2 separate regions of the Homo sapiens genome follow, and region 2 is linked to region 1. A link means that fine-mapping ties the variant in region 1 to the expression of a gene that starts in the linked region. Tissue or cell type: lymphoblastoid cells. Region 1 holds a variant in brackets; the other region holds the start of a gene. All regions are shown on one strand. Distances are between the middles of the regions.

Evidence for each region. PIP is the estimated chance that this variant, and not a neighbour inherited with it, causes the effect.
Region 2: HPS1 starts here. The variant in region 1 is fine-mapped to the expression of HPS1 in lymphoblastoid cells (GTEx, PIP 0.95).

What each region holds. Positions count from the first base shown.
Region 1 is chr10:98,360,917-98,363,597 of GRCh38, reverse strand. It overlaps LOC105378449 (a long non-coding RNA gene), which reads right to left and starts at 2,344. Exons shown (of 3, transcript XR_001747305.2): 1 at 2,062-2,344. RefSeq lists an enhancer at 2,252-2,546. The variant G/A (reference allele first, on the strand shown) is at 1,300.
Region 2 is chr10:98,445,325-98,448,005 of GRCh38, reverse strand. It overlaps HPS1 (HPS1 biogenesis of lysosomal organelles complex 3 subunit 1), which reads left to right and starts at 1,071. Exons shown (of 20, transcript NM_000195.5): 1 at 1,071-1,199; 2 at 2,602-2,681. It overlaps HPS1-AS1 (HPS1 antisense RNA 1), which reads right to left and starts at 1,685. Exons shown (of 3, transcript NR_134454.1): 1 at 1,249-1,685. RefSeq lists a silencer at 904-1,253.

The DNA of each region.
Region 1 (2,681 bases):
TATGGATTTCATATGCACTTTTAAAAATATATTTTGCATATACATATAAATGCACAGTCACATGATTAGATCAAGTAAGAGAAATAACAGACTGGGCACAATGTCTGACATCAGCCTTGTCTCAGCTGGGCGTTTTCCTCCAGGGCCACCTCCTGTCTGGTTCCTAGTTGAAGGACCCGTTCATGACTTCCAGTGCTGTGTGGCAGTAGCGACCCAGGACTTGGAGTTGGAAGACCTGTTCTGCCACTTATTAGCTATCCACATTTTACTATTGTTGACATTATTGTTCCCGGACCAAACTGAGGGTCAGGCTGCTATTTCTCATGGCCCAATAACGAGATGCAGATGAACTAGGGAGGAAGATAATTTTTATTTCTGCAACCTGTTACAGAAATTTTTATTTCTGCAACCAGGGAGAAGGCCTGGAAATTATCACCAGACCAACTCAAAATTACAAAGTTTTCCAGAGCTTCTATACCTTCTAAGCTACATGTCTACATGGAGGTGTGCATTCATCTAAAGACATAAGTGATTAACTTCTTTTCATCTATAACTAAGGTCTGAGTCTTGAAGACCTTCCTCTGGAGCCTCAGTAAGCTTACTTACTCTTGCTTTTTTTTTTTTTGAGACACAGTCTCGATCTGTCGCCCAGGCTGGAGTGCAGTGGTGCGATCTCGGCTCACTGAAAGCTCTGCCTCCCAGGTTCACGCCATTGTCCTGCCTCAGCCTCCCAAGTAGCTGGGACTACAGGCGCCCGCCACCACAGCTGGCTAATTTTTTTTTTTTTTTTTTTTTTTTTTAGTAGAGATGGGCTTTTGCCGTGTTAGCCAGGATGGTCTCGATCTCCTGACCTCGTGATCCTCCCGTCTCCACCTCCCAAAGTGCTGGGATTACAGGCATGAGCCACCACGCCCGGCCAGCTTACTTACTCTTAATGGGTCCAGTTGCTGGAGTGATTACCCTTATCTTCTCTCCTGCTGAATCACAGGTTTTAGGAGTTCCTCCAGACCCCCAATAAACTTGTTTAATCCTAAATGGGTCCTGTTAAGAATTCCTTCATTATTCTGTCATGCTTTAAGGCCCAGGAAAGGCCTAGACAAAACTCTTGGTGGGCTTTTGTTACATCCTAGCCTTTGTATAAAGGCACTGGCTTTTAATATTTAACTTAACCACTCAGTCAGTACTGAAGCGGTTGTTATGGAGGCCTGTGTGAAACTTGGCCTGCTACAATATTAGATTCTCCTCAGTAAAATGGGGATAGCAACTGCCTGCATTAAAGTGTTGACATGGCTGGGTGCC[G/A]TGGCTCACGATTGTAATCTCAGCACTTTGGGGGGCCGAGGCAGACAGAACACTTGAGCCTAGGAGTTTGGGACCAGCCTGGGAAACATGGTGAAACCCCATCTCTATAGAAAATACAACAATTAGCTGGGCACGGTGGCGCATGCCTGTGGCCCCAGCTACTGTGGAGGCTGAGGTGGCAGAATCACCTGAGCCCGGGAGGTCAAGGCTGCAGTGAGCTGTGATTGTGCCACTGCAGTCCAGCCTTAGCAATTGAGTGAGACCCTGTCATAAATAAATAAATAAATATATAAATAAATAGTGTTGACATGAGGGTGAGAGATGATGATGATGAATACCAATGTTCCAGAAAGTTCCATGTTTTATTAATGGCTTCCATGACCACCATCTCCAAGGCTCCAGTAATGTGTCTCTGTGCCTCTGGCGCCTTCTTCAATCTTCTATGTCCCAGTTTGCCTCAGAAGCTCTGGTATTGCAGTCCTCAGAAGCTGGCTGACATTCCTCTTCTGATCAAGCCAGGGAACTGCCTCTTAACAAAAGCTTTGCCTCCTCCGACCCCAGGCTGTCAGAGAAGGGACCTCCTCCTCTGGACATTACCTCTCGTTCTTTATCCCTAGACGACACCTGCCTCTGGGGCCCAGAGCCCCAGAAACCAGGTGTGTGTGACTCTCTCCCAGGCGACATAGTCCCTCCCTCCGGAAGATGCTCATCTCAGGCTCTCTCTACTTTCACTCCTTTTAGGAAACCACACGGTGGCCTTACCCCAGCTCTCTGAGCAGTGCCTAGTCATCCCAGCTGGCCTCATTCACTTTCAGGAGGCACTAGGGCATATTAGGCAAAGCCCCACTCAACCCACGTATCTTCATTATCACTTGCTGTGTTACGAATGACTCCAAAACGTTTATTATCTTGCAGCACTGTGAGTCAGGACTTGAGAAGTGGCTTAGCTGGTGGTTCTGGCTCAGGGTATCTCATGAGGTTGCAGTCCGGTTGTCAGCCAGGACCGCGTCATCAAGAAGCTTTCCTGAGGCTGAAGGATCTGTCTGCAAGCTCACTCCCAGGGCTGGCAACAGAAGGCTCTTGTTCCTTGCCGGCTATTGGCTGGAGGCCTCAGCTCCTCACCATGTGGGCGTCCCTCTATGACATGGCAGCTTGCTTCCCAGAGGGAGTGATCTGAGAGAGCAAGCAACGCCAAAGCCATGGTGTCTTTTTAAATATTTTCAGATTCCTCATTATCTTTTATTTGGTATTTTCAGAAACCATACATAGTAATACTGACAAACTCGATTTTAATGTTTGACATTAGAGTTCAGACCAGATCATAGAGATCTGCTATACTTTGCAATGTGATTTTTGTTAATTTATTTATTTATAATTTTTAA
Region 2 (2,681 bases), 84 kb before region 1:
CACAAATAGGCAAAAAGCACATGAAAAGATGCCGAACGTCAGGGAAGTGCAAATAAAATCACAAGACACCACTCCACGCTGGGTTACTATACTTAAAAAAAAAAAAATCAACAATAACAAGCATTGGTGAGGATGTGGAGAAATCAGAATCCTCATACATTGCAGTTGGGAAATGGAAATTACCAGTAGGGGAATGAATAAGTAAATAACAGCATATCCATTTGATGGAATTCATTCGACCACTGAAAGCATAGTGAGTGAACGATCTCAACGGTGGGCTGAGCAAAGAGATGCGTGTGGCAGGGCTATGTGCTGTAGATGGGGAGTTGGAAGAATTTGCCCTAAGGTGGGCTGGAAGGGGTGGGTAGTGGGTTGGGGGGAGTGATGCTCTCTTTGATCTGCAGGTGGTGGAAGTATTGATTCTTAGCCTCTGCCTTTCCCCCAAGAGATGCTCAATCTACTATATCCCCAGCCAGTTCTTGCAACCCATACCTTGCTGGGCTGGGCTCAAAGCTCCCAGGTGGCACCCAGGCACTGAGGGGTGGACTGTTCGGGGATTTAGGCCCTTCCAGAGCGCCCCCTCCACTTCCAGGCACCCCCAATACACATACGATTTTTTAAAATAAATATTGCAAACATAGGTTCAACACAAAACTCCTAATGTGCACTCCACTCCCAAAATAGATTGAGAACTCCTATAAATTCCAGCGTTGGCACTCTGGGGGCAACTGAGCCCTTCTGTGCGCTATGTCACCTCCCCAAAGGTCAGGGAGAGCAGTCACAAAAGGACAGCTCTAGCCCCAGAACTTCAGTTCATTAGGCAAAGCCTGAGGTTCCGGGGCATGGGGAGGAGAGAAGGGATCAGCTGAGGAGCCAGGAAACCTGGGTTCTGAGCCTGGTTCGGACCCTCAGCAAGTTATTTCTTCTCTCTGCGCCTCCGTTTCCTCTTCTGTAAAATGGGGCATGGGCAAGGCCTGGCAGGGGCGGGGCTCGAACCCGCGGAAGGCGACGGCGGCTCCGGCCCCTCCCGGGGCGGGCGGTCACGTGCGCGATCACGCGGTCCTACCCGGAAGCGCGCCCGGGCTCCTGCAGGCGGGGCGCTGTGCGCGCCGCGATCCGGTACGTGGGCCTCCGGGCTGTCCCCTCTGGGGGCGGCGATCCTCCCTCCGGAGCCCCCCTTCAACCCTCCCGGAAGTGAGGTAGGGTCCCTAGGGGTCCCGGAGCGGGCCCACTCCTAGCCTCACCCACTCCGGGCGTGTGGCCGTGGGCCGGTCGCTTCCTCGCTCGGGGCCAAAGTTCCTCAGCCGTGAAGAGGGGTGGATGTCACAAGTCAAGCCTCCTTCCCAGGGTGGCCGTGAGGTTCGGGGGTGGGGGGAGGTGGGGATTTGGGGTGAAACTGGACAGAAACTGGCGTGCTAGGCAAACGGGAGCCCCGCGGCGGCGAACTGCTGACTCGCTCTCTCCAGAGACTCAGGGGCAGGGCCGGGCTCCGAAGGTGTGGGACCCCAGAAGGAGCTGCTGAAGACGGGACCAAGGGCCACAGGGAGGTTTGCTGGGGTCCAGATGGTGAAAGTGGGCGCTGGGGGTCGCCCCAGGTTGGCCCCCCGCCATCTGGAGCTCCTTTCGTCAGTGAGTCCCCTCCGAGTTCCCTTTCTAGGGCAAGATAGCGAGGTGAAGCGGAAGTCTCAGTGTGACACCGGCGAGGTTCTCTTCCCAGCAGCCTTTGGGAAGCATCCCCCTGTTTCGGGAATATGGCATTCGGGCCAATCATGTGGGTGATGGAGCCCGTCTCAGGGTTCGGCTGCTAAAGGCCGAACTCGTAACAGCAGTCTCTGTGGCGGGTAGTCACTTGCCTCTTACTGGCTCACAGTGCTTGACTTCCTAATTAAGTTTTCTGTTGTTCCTGCCCTCTATTCAAATATGAATGATTCCGGAACCAGATTGATTAATCCTGTTATTTGAAGAAGGGAAGCTGGGAAATAGGAATAATGATCCCCACACCTATGTAAGAACGCAGTTTGCTAAGGTTACTTTGCAGCTTGCCTGGTCACTCCCATGATCTAACCCTGTAGGGAGGTAGAGTAGGGGATGTTGCTCTGTTTCTCCGCAGGAGTTTGAGGCTCAGAGAGGTTTATGGGACTTGGCAAAGCCAAAACTAGAACCTGGTCCCAGATGCCTTTCCTGTTAGTTTCCTTCCATTCATCGTATCATCCCAGGATCCCCACTCCCTTCACCGGGACTGCATCCTCACCACCTGGGATGTGCTATGCTGTCTCCCGTCAGTCACTCCTAGCAAGCTCCCTGGGGCTGCTTGGGGAGCTCTGAGTGACCCGCAGAAGTGAGAGCACTTCATGGGAACAAAGGAGGAAGGAACAAAAGTGGGCACCTGCTCTGTGCAAAGGGCTGTGCTGGCCGGGTTCCTATTCTCCATTATGGGAGGTGAGGGGCAGGATCCCAGATATGTTCTTAGCAGACTGCCTCAGGGCCTGGAGAGACCAGGGACCACGCAGCCCTTCTCCAGCTTGTCCTTTCTCAACGGGCAGCAGTCAAGACCAGGGCATCTGCCTGCCCTCATATTCTCTCTGTTTTAAGCATTTGCAGGACCAGGGATGCTGTGCTGCTCTCCCATGAGCCAGTCACCGAGTCGGTCTGCTGCAGCCCTTTCTGAACCTCTGGCCGTC